Linked DNA regions of Homo sapiens. The protein of the gene in region 3 purifies or fractionates together with the protein of the main gene of each other region. This does not show direct contact. Each region holds a gene or a part of one and is shown on either strand. Other genes may lie near its edges.

Region 1 (3,500 bases), on a different chromosome or scaffold from region 3:
TATTGTGGAAGAAGAAGAATTTTATGAATCTAGAATCAAGTTTATAGCAGTATACTCTGAATAAATAACTGCACAGTTCCTGTCAAATGTGAGGGGAACCCATTTGACATCTTTACAGAACTAGTCAAAAGATTAGAAAGGGAGTACACATTATTTTTTCCCACTTTAAAATTGAAGAATGATATGATGTATGGTTATAATGCATTTCACTAATTATTGCTTTAATTGTGTAAAGGCATTTCTTTTGAAGAAGCTCCTGTTTTCTTCGGAGAAGTCTTCTTGGCGGGATTGTTCAGGTATGATAGCTGTCTTTTAAAACTTTTGCTTCCTCCTCTGTTTTAATAGAGATGATCTAAAATTATCTGAGAAAGTCAAGTATCAGTGGGAATTTTTTTTCCTGAGGTTTCCTTTTAAAATGTTTTAGAAAGTTTCATGAACAGTGACTCCATATTTCCAAATTTGGCTTTCTAACCAGGGGTTATAAGACATGATGGTATAACTAAGGGAAAAACGTTTGGCCTCTTGGTAAAACACGGTGCATTTCCTAGAACTGTTAGGTGGCAGCATGCCATAAAGAACAGTCTTTTTTTTTTTTTTTTTTTTGTAGTCTTATTTAGCTGTGGGCAAGACCTCAGAATTATCATTATATTCCTGCATGTTTTAGTATAATGCCTTACACAATGCAAATACTGCAAATAATTTTGGATGAAATTGCAAATGAAGCTGTCATAGCTTCTGTAACATGAGCTTCTGTACCCAGAGAGATGTGTGGTGCCACCTTATAATAACAAGAATTTGCATTCCACGTGACAGTTTACAAAGATCTTTCCTTCACTTACACAATTTCCTGTGAACCTCACAGTAAATTCTGGAAGAAGTTAGGACACATTACAATCCCAGTTTTGTATCTAAGGATGTAACAGCTTACATTCCAAACCATGACTATAGAATCTACTAATGATTTTGAATTTAAGAGTTAAGGGATCACTTCCATAAGTTTTAAATTAATAGGTGAAATACAAAACAAATTTTAGTAGAGAAGAAACTATTTGAGATACTATTTTTGAAATGAACTTTTAATAAAATTTATACTATTTCTTATACTATATTCACTATATTCACTTTGATAAAACATTTGTAAAGCATTGTCATAAGTGTCATAAATACTGTGGTGATTAGAAAGTGAACAGCATAGTTCCTGCAGTTAAAGAACTGTTAATCCATTAGGAGAGACAGAAACCTCCTTGTATCATAAAATTTTTGAAAGTTTCAGAAAGTAATACTACTTCTTGAGAGTAATACTGCTTGAAAAGAGTGTGGCTAAGGTTCATAAAGAGATGGTCTGAGCATTTGCGCCATTTTCTATAAAATTCTAATGCTCAAATCTGTATTCTAACCACTGGCTTCTGCTGATGTAATGGACTTTGGTAACATATGTGCTGACGGTCTCTCATCTCATTATTCTTATCCCTTTGGGACGGGGTGATCATAGACGTTAGATTAATTCAGATGTGAGGGAAAAAAAATAGAGGTTTCAACAGGCCTTTACATTGTGCTCAGTTCTTCAGTAGAGGAAACCTCTTGGCTTAAATGCTGCAGTTGCTAAAGTTTTAAGAAAGTGATGATCAGTGTCACATTATGATCTTTCATAATGTTTAGTTCTGCATTTTTCAGTATTCTTTTTCTACTTGGTGGTGTTATTTGGATGGCTTTATTTAAAGTGGTGATATTTTAATCCACAAACACATTGTTTTTCTAAGACATAATTTAAAATCTATTTAGAGATTTTTCCCCCATTTTTAAAATGCTTGATTTTCATCATTAACCCATTCTTACTATTGTTATTCATGACAGAATTTTTTTTTTTCCAGAGGAAACCATTATAACTTATGCTTTGGTTATTTTTAGAGGAAGAGCAGAAGGAACTCCTTTGTCATACCTTGTGTGATATTTTAGAAAGTGCTTGTTGTGACCACTCTGGATCATACTGCTTGGTTTCATGGTTAAGAGGAAAGACAACTGAGGAAACTGCTAGTATTTCTGGGAGTCCTGCAGAGTCTAGTTGCCAAGTGGAACATTCTTGTAAGATATATTTTTATTTCCTGAAGTTTTTTTCTTGTTCCTTTGTTTTAATGAATCTATTGAATATTTTGAAGAAAAAATTACTTAAAATTTTCATAACATGTATTCTTTTCCAGCTTAAGCTTAATTACTGAGCCTCACTATTTTTTATTTCCATATCATTTATTTTAACTACTTAGAAGATACTACATTTTTGCAAAAAAAAATGCATCTCTTAAACTTTTAAAAATGTTCTGGTTAACTTCTGCTTGATAATAATCTCTTTTGAGCTTTAGAACTCTTATTTAGAAATAATGATATGCTTCAGTTTCAGATGCCTTAATGTTTTGCTTTGGTATTGCAAAAACGGATTTTTTTGGACATCAGAAGATTTCATAAAGTTATCTTTACTTGCTTCCCAGAGCAAAGATGGGGACATTTCTCCTCATTGCAAGCTGTTTCTTTTCTTTCCGAATTATTTGGATATTTTTATACATATAGATTATTTTAAGGCAATTTTAATTATGCCTTAAGTTTTTCATACCTTGAAGATAAGTTAAATAATAGCTGTTTACGTTAAATAATAGCTATTCTCATTATTCATAAAAATTATATATTCTGTGGTTTTTAACTTTTGAAAATTGTTATGTAATTGACCCGAAAGCTGCCAGTGTGAAATGGAGACAGCTAGTGGTACGGAAGCTAGTTAAGAGTTGCTTTTCTGATTTGCTTTTCAGGAATAATCTTGCTAGTTGATGGTTTTTTATAATTGGTAGTCCCAAGTGCTTATGTTAAATAAGTGACTTATTCTACCCACAGAGCATCACATTAACTATCATCTTTGTGGAAAGTTTTCGTAAAGAGATTACGTACCTGAAAGTACACTTCAATTGTATGGGATACACATTTTGCTTTCCATATAGTATTATCTATAAGGTGCTGTTGCCTCCCTGGACTAAAATGCCTCTGTGTTGTCAGTGTCTTTTTTCTCCTACCTCTGCAGTTAAAATGCCTTAAGCCTGGCAAATTCTAATAGTAGTAACATTTGCAAGGAATAATTTTGAACATTTGAACAGCTATATGATGCTTCCTTTTGAAGCCTTTGAAATATGGCCTTTCAAAAAGAACTTAACATATTTTAGAGTTTATAATGACATTTGAAGACAACAAGTGGAAAACAGTCACAAGGATGCTAGTCCAAAGTGTCACTAAGATTGGTTTTAACATATTCTCCAGGTTTTACTGTGTGGGTGTTAGCACACTTAATAGGTTCATTTAGGATATTAAAATTTTGAAAGAGGAATTGTTGATCTTTTGAAAAGGTATTTTAAAGATTTTGTGCTTAAAGCCAGTCTGTATATTGATGTGAGAAAATAGTAAGATCTTTTTATATAACATTTTCCATTAGTATCTTAACAGTATACTGAGTGCATACTATG
Region 2 (3,500 bases), on a different chromosome or scaffold from region 3:
TTTGGGATGGTTTTTCATTTTCTTAAAATAAGTGTTCAGATATTCTCCTTGAATTGGGTAGAATATTAATTGTCAGATATTGTTTTTTATTTGGATGATAAACACTAACCCACAGGATTTAAACTACAACTTCTAGACTAGGCATGGTGGGTCATGCCCTTAATCCCAGCATTTTGGGAGGCTGAGGCAAAAGGATCGCTTGAGCCCAGGAGTTCGAGACCAGCCTGGGCAACATAGAGGGACCACCATGTGTACAAAAAAAATTTTTTTTTAAAGATTAGCTGGGTGTGGTGGTGTGCATCTGTAGTCCCGGCTACTTGGGACACTGAGGTGGGCGGATCGCTTGAGTCTGAAAGGTCAAGGCTGCAGTGAGCTGAGACCACACCACTGTACTCCAGCTTAGGTGACAGAACAAGACCCTGTCTCAAAAAAATAATAAATGAGTGAACAAACAAACTGCAGCCTCTAGATCAGTAGTTCTCAGCTGACAGTAATTCTGCCCCTTTTCCCATAGGACATTCAGTAACGTCTGAAGACAGTTTCGGTTGTTATAGCTGGTAGAAGTGGGGATGCTACTGGTGTCTAGTGGGTGAAGGTCAGAAATGCTATTAAAGCATCTTATAATGCCCAGCATAGCTCTCCACAACAAAGAATATCCAGCCCAAAATGTCAGTAGTGCCACTGTTGATAAACCCTACGTAGATACAAACTTGAATAAGACTCTTGGCTTCCTCAGTGACTTAACGTTCATCCTGTGTAATCCAAAGGTTTGGGCATTTTTCCAGGCTTCAATCCTGTCTAAAACTTAAACTCTTGCTGCAAACATTTAGAGAGAACTAACAGTTGAAAGCAGAATAAAATACTTTATATAAATATCTACATATTTTCACTTATATACCGATTCATACATAATATAATGAATGTTATGGAAAATAACTTTTGGGGTAACAGTTTTACTTTGATAATCATTGTGCTTATAGACTGTCAGAAGTATCGAAAAGTGATTTATGCAAATAAAATTATTTCTTAATGAGTAGATTTTCAAATAAGCTGTTTTGTCCACTGTTATTGAATTGTTTACTTTTTGTAATTATGTTGAGGCTTTTGGTGAATTATGATGCTCTCATTAGTAAGTTTTACCCCACATTTTTAAGGTTCACCTGTATTCACTTAGGAAATAGGAATCACTAAGATATTTGAATTAAGAAAACAATATACTATTTTTAATGTGTAATTCTTTTTGTTGACTTTTTTCGTCTTTGCTATTTTGTTGAAAATAAGAGGTATATCTTTTTTCATTTGCCTGTACCTATTCTTCCATTGTAATAGTCTAGAGTACAAACAAGCTACTCCTATAACGTAGCAGCATTTGGCCTGAACATACTCAGACACAATTTTCTCTCCACCATCAAACTAAATGACTGCCTAGCAGTCAGCCTTGATGGTTACTTATTATGGATTTTTTTTCTCTTTACTCTTCATAATTAAACTGCATAAATGCAAATATGTAAAGTTAATCTAAGATTTTAATTACAGTTCAAAGTTGTTATATTAGTGATTACAAACTGAAAGTTTTCTGATGTCTTATGTACCAGTGCCATTAGTTTTCTCTAGTCAAGGTGGTCTGTTTGATTTCTGTTATTACCATGAGAAATAGGTAATATCCTTTTCTGTCAAAGGCTCTTGTTTTTAGAAAACTGAACATGTAAGTTTTTGACTACCTTTGAAACCCATTACTTGTTAAGGAACTCCTAAAAACCATGTTTGTAGAGAAAGTTGGTAATACTACTTTGGGACAGGGTTCCTAACACAGTTTAACCATGCAAGTGTTTTTGAAAATTCTTTGTTTTAGAACAGGAGCTTCAATTGTGTTATTAACAATTGATAATGTTTCCACTATAATCAGATTGCAGATTAAGTGAAAGCTTTCCTAAATTTTACTTAAAGAAACAAGTTTTATTTATTTATATTGAACATTCTAGTTGGGGAAATGAGTGTGTGTAAGTGGGTGTATATTACACTTTTATAAGGATTTATCTAAGGGAATATAAATTCATGTTTCATATCTCCCTGTGTAAAATTAAAACTCTTAGGAATACCAGTGAAAATAACATTTTTATTTATACCTTATTAAATCATTGCACTACTAACTGTACATTATTTAGATGTTTATTACTCTTGGCTTTATTATTTAACTGCTCCCAATTCTCACTTAAGATTGATTTAGCTAAACATACACAGTGAGTATGAAATATAACTTTTTTTTAAAGGGTGAAGTTGAACAAATTGCTATGATGAAACCAAAAGGCCAGACTGAACACGATGAGGGTATGCTTGAATATTTAGAAGATATAATTGGTTGTGGACGGCTAAATGAACCTATTAAAGTCTTGTGTCGGAGAGTTGAAATATTAAATGAACACAGAGGAGAGAAGGTGAATCATCTGTAGACTTTCATTGTAAATCAGAATGTTTCATTTATGATCTAACAAATTTTAGTAAGTCAGATATTCATGTTATAATACTTAATGAAGAAGTGTTATATTGAAATTTATATCTTAACATTTAAGATGAACATTCTCCTTATTAACTGTTTTTATCTAATGTTTGCATATTTTAAGTTCATATTGTACATATGAAGTGTGTATTCAGTCTTTAAACTTTTAATTTCTGTAGTTAAACAGGGTAAAGATGGTGGAAAAGGAAAAGGATGCCTTAGAAGGAGAGAAAAACATAGCTATCGAATTTCTTACCTTGGAAAATGAAATATTTAGAAAAAAGAATCATGTTTGTCAATATTATATGTAAGTGCCTTGATTGATATTACCAATTTTTATATTAGTTTTTAACCATTAAGTCAAAGCCCTTCTCTTTTCCTAGAGAAACATGAAGACTGAAGTGAAAAAAAATCTCTAAATATTGTTTTGTGTGACTGAATGTGTTAGCTCATGCCTGTAATTCCAGCACTTTGGGAGGCTAAGGCAGGAGGATCACTTGAGGCTGGGAGTTCAAGACCAGCCTGGGCAACATAGCAAGACCCCATCTCTACAAAAAAAGGAATTATGTGGTGAACTTATCCAATGTGAGGACTATCTGGCTGTGACACCTGTCATCCCGTTGATCACCAGGGTTGAATTTATTAAATTAGGCATATTAATTCATTGAAGTTGACTTTTTAGTATCCTGCTTTAAGTTGGGAGGTAGGTTCACAGGTATTTATTACTGTACTCAGTCCTTTTACGTGTGCACTTTTTAAAATTCGTGTAATAGCAGATCTGATTTTTTTCAGCTTATGATGAACTGTTTTTTGAGATGGGCTGTTTCACCCAGGGTGGAGTGCAGTGTGTGATCACGGCTCACTGCAATCTCAACCTTCCGGACTCAGTTGATCCTCCCACCTCCACTTCATGAGTAGCTGGGACTACAGGGCACACACCAACACACCTGGCTAATTATTATTATTATTATTGTTGCTGGGATTTTTTTGTTTTTATTTTTTC
Region 3 (3,500 bases):
TGTCTCCATTTTCCTTTCTAATTGAACTAATATAGAATCTTCTTTTCTTGTCTAATCTAGCTAATGATCTATGAATTTAGTTTATCTTTTCAAAAACCACCTTTTTTTTCATTGATCTTTTGCAGTTTCTTTTGTTTCAATTTCATTTAGTTCTGCTCTGATCTTTGTTATTTCTTTTATGCTAGCTTTGGGTTTAATCTGTTCTTTTTTTTTTTTTTTTTGAGACAGAGTCTCATTCTGTTGCCCAGGGAGTGCAGTGGTGCGATCTCAGCTCACTGCAACCTCTGCCTCCCGGGTTCAAGCAATTTTCCTGCCTCAGCTCTCCTGAATAGCTGGGATTACAGGCGTGTGTCACCACGCCCAGCTAATTTTTGTACTTTTGTTAGAAGCAGGATTTCACCATGTTGACCAGGCTCGTCTTGAACTCCTGGACTCAAGCGATCTGCCCACCCCAGCCTCTCAAAGTGCTGGGATTATAGGTATGAGCCACCGCGCCCAGCCTCATTTGGTCTGTTCTTGTTCCTCTAGTTCCTTGAGGTGTGACATTAGGTTGTCAATTTGTGATCTTTCAGACTTTTCTCTCTCTCTCTCTCTCTCTTTTTTAAATAGAGATGAGGTCTTGCTATGTTATCCAGGCTGGTCTTGAACTCCTGAGCTCAAGCAATCCTCCTGCCTTGGCCTTTCAAAGTGCTGGGGTTATAGGCGTGAGTCACCATGCCTGGCTCAAGACTTCTTGATGTAGGCATTTAACACTATAAATTTTTCCTCTTAGCACTGCTTTTGCTGTATCCCAGAGGTTTTGATAACTTGTGTCACTATTATTTATTTTGAAGAATTTTTAAATTTCCAGTGATTTCATTGTTAACCCAAAAATCATTTAGAAGCAGATTGTTTAATTTCCATGTATTTGTATAGTTTTGAAGGTTCCTTTTCAAGTTGGTTTCTAGTTTTATTCGACTGTGGTCTGAGAAGATACTTGATATGATTTCAATTTTTTTAAATTTGAGATTTGTTTTGTGGTCTATCATATGGTCTATCTTGGAGAATATTTCAGGCACTGATGAGAAGATTGTATATTCTGCAGTTCTGGAGTAGATGTTCTGTAAATATGTTAGTTGATTTGTTCTGGAGTATAGTATAGGTCCAGTGTTTGTTGACTTTCTGCCTTGATGATCTGTTTGCTGTTGTCAGTGGAGTGTGAAGTCTTCCACTATCATTGTGTTGCTGTCTTTCTCTTTTGTTAGGTCTGGTAGTAGTTGTTTTATGAATCTGGGAGCTCCAGTTTTAGGTGCATATATATTTAGGATTGTAATATCTTCTTGTTGGGTTGATCCTTTTATAATTATATAATAGCCTTCTTTGTCTTTTTTTCAGTGTTGTTGCTTTAAATTCTATTTTATTTGATATAAGAAAAGCTACTGCTGCTTGCATTTGGCTTCCATTTGTATGGAATATCTTTTTCCACTCCTTTACCTTTAGTCTATAAGAAGCCTCACATGTTAAGTGAGTCTCTTGAAGATGGCAGATATTTGGTTTGCGATTTATTTATTTATTTATTTATTTATTGAGACGGAATCTCGCTCTGTAGCTCAGGCTGGAGTGCAGTGGTGTGATCTCAGCTCACTGTAACCTCTGCCTCCCGGGTTCAAGTGATTCTCCTGCCTCAGCCTCCCGAGTAGCTGGGACTACAGGCACACACCACCACACTTGGCTAATTTTTGTATTTTTAGTAGAGATTTTGCAACGTTAGCCAGACTGGTCTTGAATTCCTGACCTCAGGTGATCCACCCACCTCAGCCTCCCCAAGTGCTGGGATTACAGGTGTGAGCCACTGCGCCCAGCCTGTGATTTTTTTTTTTTTTTTGAGTGGAGTATTTAGACCATTTACATTGAATGTTAATATTGAGATGTGAGGTACTGTTACAGTCATCATGTTGATTGTTACCTAGATACTTTTCTTCCTTCATTACATTATTGTTTTATAGGCCCTGTGAGTTTTATGCTTTCAAGAGGTTCTATTCTGGTGCATGCCAACCTTTTGTTTTAAGATTTAGAACTCCTTTTTGCATTTCTTGTAGGTCTGGTCTGGTAGTGACAAATTCCCTCAGCATGTGCTTGTCTGAAAAAGACTTTATTTCTCTTTCATTCATGAAACTTAGTTTTGTTGGATACAAAATTCTTGACTAATGTTTATTCTGCTTAAGGAGGCTAACAATAGGACCCCAATCCCTTCTGCAGTTGTAAGGTTTCTGGAGAGAAATTCTTGTGAATAAAACAATCCATCTTTTCTTTTTAGCTTCCACCAACACTTTCTTCCAAATATCCTGAAGATGACCCAGACTACTGTGTGTGGGTCCCACCTGAAGGTAGATTGTTTTTACTTTTTTTTCCTCTAAGGTTCATTTATTTATATTTTTGAATAGGTAATATAGATTTAAGGTTCAACATAAGAAAGTTACAAGAGTATGTAGTGATAATTTGTATACCATGTTTGGATCCTTATTCAAACAAACAACTGTTTAAAAAAATTATTAGCCAGTCAGATAATTTTGAACACTACCTGGATATTTGATGATACTAAGAAATTATTTTTTATTTTTTTAAAGTGTGAATGATGTTGAGTTATGTTTTTTGGAAAAAGTCCTTGTCTTCTAGGAATATATACGGAAGTGTTTACAGGTGTAATGTTATCTGGGTTTTACCAAGTCAAAAGAAAGGAAAACAATTCTGGCTGTGCCTCAGCTACTCGGTTGTTTTCCTCACAAGACAACCAATTGTTGTTAGTTTCTTATGGATACTTATATATAAAATGCTAAGTAGAGAGGAGCATCTATAGAAAAAAAATCATAAAAGTTAACCTGCTGGATCAAAGGTATAAACATTTTAAAGATATTATAAATTGCATTCTATAGAGATTGTACCAGTTTTATGCTCATACACACACCCTTAAAGCAATGTATGAGATACTTACTTCCTCATATGTTCATCACAGCTTGAGATTTCTAATATATTAGTAACTAATATAATTTAGTTACTTGAGATGTCTGCTTTTTCTATGCTAACAAATGTTAGGGTAGAAATGAAAGAGGGCTGTATTTTGAAATTTCATACAAAAAGTAAAATTTCTACCGTAGAATAAACCTTTTTGTCTATTTTACTTTTTGGCCTACTGATATCTGGATATCTTTTCTCTCCTGACTTTGGAAGAGTAAATAATGTATTTCTTTTTTTATATTCTGATCTAGGTCAAAGTGGAGATGGCAGAACCCATCTTAATGACAAGTATGGCTATTGATTGCTTCAGAATCCCAAAAGAAAACCTTGTGGACCATGTGACATGGAATATTTGGGATAATGTATCAAATTGAATGGCCAGAGAAGTTTAGATGATTATTTGTAAGATCTGGTGACTGGCTTTTCGTTCTGTGTTCTTGGCTTCCTAAATTTATCTGCCCATATGATTCTCATGCATTTGATATTTATGTTTAAAAGTGTTTATA
Region 4 (3,500 bases), on a different chromosome or scaffold from region 3:
TTATTTTAAAGTCAGTTTCTACAGGTATAGAACATTGATTAAGGAGTTATGTCATGGAGTCTGGGCATGATGGCTCACGCCTTAATCCCAGCACTTTGGAAGGTTGAGGCCAGCAGATCATTTAAGCCCAGGAGTTCGAGACCAGCCTGGGCAACATGGCAAAACCCTGTCTCTACAAAAAATAATTTTAAAAAATTAGCCTGGCATGGCGGTGCATGCCTGTAGTCCCAGCTACTTGAGTGGCTGAGGTGGGAAGACCACTTGAGCCTGGGAGGTGGAGGCTGCAGTGAGCTGTATTAGTGCCACTGCACTTCAGCCTGGGCAACACAGCAAGACGTTGTCCCAAAAAAAGGGTAAAGGTTATATCATTAAGTAGCAAGGCATTAAAAGTCCATTAACCTGTGTGCAGCTTCTTTGTTCAGTACATACAGATTTGTACTCTAGCAGCTGGCCATCTAACATAGGGCAGCCAAACAGTGGCCTACTGCATTCCTGATCCCATATCTCCCTAGCTTTAGCCATAATGAGGTAGTGCTAAGGTGGCCCTTGATTCTATAAAGTTCAGGTTTGACTTTTTTTTTAACTTAGGGATTTTACAAAAGACTCTTTGTCTGAGCAAAGCTCATATCTTTCTGACCTCATCCAGGAATAGAAGAAGAGAAAAATGCAATTTCCGTGGGTTGAGCTGAGCACTTTTAAATGTCTGCAGGCTTTCTTGCTTCCCACTTTTCCATTCTTTCTCTGTGGTAGCTAGGACTACAGGAGTGTTGCCACCATGTCTGGCTCATTAAAATTTTTTTTTATTTTTATTTTTTAAGATGAGGTCTGTGTTGCCCAGGCTGGACTCAAACTCTTGGGCTCAAGCCATCCTCCCACCTTGGCCTCCCGAAGCCCTGGGATTACAGATGTGAGCAATTGTACCTGGCTAGAGCAGCAATTCTTAAGAGTGATAAACCAGAAAAAAATTGAGATATTTTAGTCAGAGATCATTTGAGTATTGCCTCGATTTGTTGTGTGACATTGGACAGATCACTGATTCTCTTTTCTCACCGATTCTCTTTTCTCACCTGTAAAATGTACATTTGAAAAGTACAGTGGGGGTCAGGGACACAGGCTCACACTTGTAATCCTAGTGCTTTGGGAGGCTGAGGCAGGAGGATCGCTTGAGACGGAGTTCAAGACCAGCCTGGGCAACATGGTGAAACCCCATTACTACAAAAAATAAAAAAACTAGGCCGGGTGCAGTGGCTCACGCCTGTAATCCTAGCAATTTGGGAGGCTGAGACAGGCAGATCACCTGAGGTCAGGAGTTCAAGACCAGCCTGGCCAACATGGTGAAACCCCATCTCTCTACTAAAATACAAAAATTAGCCAGGCATGATGGCGGGTGCCTGTAATCCCAGCTACTCGAGAGGCTGAGACGGGAGAATCGCTTGAACCCGGGAGATTGTGGTTGCAGTGAGCTAAGATTGCACCACTGCACTCCAGCATGGGTGACTGAGCGAGACTCTGTCTCAAAAAATAAATAAATAAATAAATAAAAATAAATTTAAGAAACCTAGCCAGGCGTGGTAGCGTGTGCCTGTGGTCCCAGCTACTTGGGAGGCTAGGATGGGAGGATCACTTGAGCCCAGGAGGCAGAGGCTGCAGAGAGCTGAGATCACGCCACTGCACTCCAGCCTAGGCAGCAGAGCAAGACCCTGCCTCAAAACCCGCCCCCCCAAAACCCAAAAACTAGCATTATTGGTTCATAGAGTTTGTTTCAAGAATTTTTTCTTTGCAGAGTAAAACACTGTCTTTTTTTTTTTTTTTTTTTTTTGAGATGGAGTCTTGCTCTGTCGCCCAGGCTGGAGTGCAGTGGCGCGATCTCGGCTCACTGCAAGCTCCACCTCCCAGGTTCACGCCATTCTCCTGCCTCAGCCTCCCGAGTAGCTGGGACTGCAGGCACCCGCTACCATACCCGACTAATTTTTTTGTATCTTTAGTAGAGATGGGGTTTCACCATGTTAGCCAGGATGGTCTCTATCTCCTGACCTTGTGATCCGCCTGCCTTGGCCTCCCAAAGTGCTGGGATTATAGGCATGAGCCACTGCACCCGCCAACACTGTCCATTTTTAAGGGAATTTGAGAAAAATAGAAACCATCATACTTTTCTCAAAATTAGGGTTAATCTTGGATTACAAAAGCCTGTCTCCCATCCCAGGACTTCTTTTGGAAATTGTTTTTTAGGGACTGGAGTTCTGGCTCTGTCACTTGAAACAGTCTTAAAACTGGATCTGGGGCCGGGTGCGGTGGCTCATGCCTGTAATCCCAGCACTTTGGGAGGCTGAGGCGGGCAGATCATGAGGTCAGGAGATTGAGACCATCCTGGCTAACACGGTGAAACCCTGTCTCTCTACTAAAAATACAAAAATGAGCCGGGCGTGGTGGCGGGTGCCTGTAGTCCCAGCTACTGGGGAGGCTGAGGCAGGAGAGTGGCATGAACCCGGGAGGCGGAGCTTGCAGTAAGCCGAGATCGTGCCACTGTACTCAAGCCTGGGGGACAGAGCGAGACTCCGTCTCAAAAAAAAAAAAAAAAAAGAAAAATAACTGGATCTGACAAAGAGCCCAGAAGCTTATTGGAGACAGCAGAACCTGGCTGGGATGAGGGAGGGAGCTGGAGAAGCCAAACAGATCACTCTTACCCTGCTCTATTTTGCCATTCCAGGTCGTCTCATCGCTGTCACCTGCCTGGTGTCTAGCTGGTGTCGGTGTCCTTGTGAACCTGGCTAACCCTGTTTACCTTGCTGCCCTGGCCTAGGAGTAGATACAAATTCTCAGGGCCTTGAGGAATCTGGGTTTTAGGGAATATTTTTGAGGGCTTAAAGAAGCTTCTATTCTTAAAGAGCTTTAGTTTGAGTAGATTTGGAATCAAAACAAGGCTCAGAGATCTGCTGGGAGTTACAAGATTTCTCTTTAATTATTGCATCTAGTGTCCCCTGTTTCTACTGAACAAAGCTTGGAAACAGTGAGGAAGAGTTGACATTCTGAGTGTGTCTTACGGGAAGCAAAAACATTTATTGGGCTTATTGTGCCAGATTGTGTGTGTGTGTGTGTGTATGTTATTCTATTACTGTGTTACATGCTTAACTATAGTCACTACAGCAATTCTGATAGTAATCAGGAGGAATAATAAGATACTCTTTTCTTTGAGACAGTCTTGCTGTGTCACCAGGCTGGAGTGCAGTGGCGCGATGTTGGCTTATTGCAGCCTCCATCTCCCAGGTTCAAGCTCCTCCCACCTCAGGCTCCAGAATATCTGGGATTGCAGGCGTGTGCCACCACGCTTGGCTAATTTTTGTACTTTTTTAAAATTTGAGGTGAGGTTTCATCATGTTGCCCAGGCTGATCTCGAACTCCTGGCATCAAGCAATCTGCCTGCCTCAGCCTCCCAGAGTGTTGGGATTACAGATGTGAGCCACTATGCCTAGCCAAGATACCGTTTTACTACTAAAAACAGT

What was found. The genes of interacting proteins can lie anywhere in the genome.
Region 1: the proteins of SLC4A1AP (region 3) and MINDY3 fractionate together in Homo sapiens (co-fractionation; one large-scale study listed by BioGRID). This does not show direct contact.
Region 2: the proteins of SLC4A1AP (region 3) and SMC4 fractionate together in Homo sapiens (co-fractionation; one large-scale study listed by BioGRID). This does not show direct contact.
Region 4: the proteins of SLC4A1AP (region 3) and WIPF2 fractionate together in Homo sapiens (co-fractionation; one large-scale study listed by BioGRID). This does not show direct contact.

What each region holds. Positions count from the first base shown.
Region 1 is NC_000010.11:15,840,008-15,843,507, reverse strand, and holds part of MINDY3 (ubiquitin carboxyl-terminal hydrolase MINDY-3), read left to right. Parts: intron 1-235; coding exon 236-296; intron 297-1,908; coding exon 1,909-2,082; intron 2,083-3,500. UniProt on the Homo sapiens protein: Hydrolase that can remove 'Lys-48'-linked conjugated ubiquitin from proteins.
Region 2 is NC_000003.12:160,409,650-160,413,149, forward strand, and holds part of SMC4 (structural maintenance of chromosomes protein 4), read left to right. Parts: intron 1-2,270; coding exon 2,271-2,435; intron 2,436-2,676; coding exon 2,677-2,804; intron 2,805-3,500. UniProt on the Homo sapiens protein: Central component of the condensin complex, a complex required for conversion of interphase chromatin into mitotic-like condense chromosomes.
Region 3 is NC_000002.12:27,691,389-27,694,888, forward strand, and holds part of SLC4A1AP (kanadaptin), read left to right. Parts: intron 1-2,296; coding exon 2,297-2,366; intron 2,367-3,245; coding exon 3,246-3,295; 3' UTR 3,296-3,500.
Region 4 is NC_000017.11:40,267,804-40,271,303, forward strand, and holds part of WIPF2 (WAS/WASL-interacting protein family member 2), read left to right. Parts: intron 1-3,500. UniProt on the Homo sapiens protein: Plays an active role in the formation of cell surface protrusions downstream of activated PDGFB receptors. Plays an important role in actin-microspike formation through cooperation with WASL.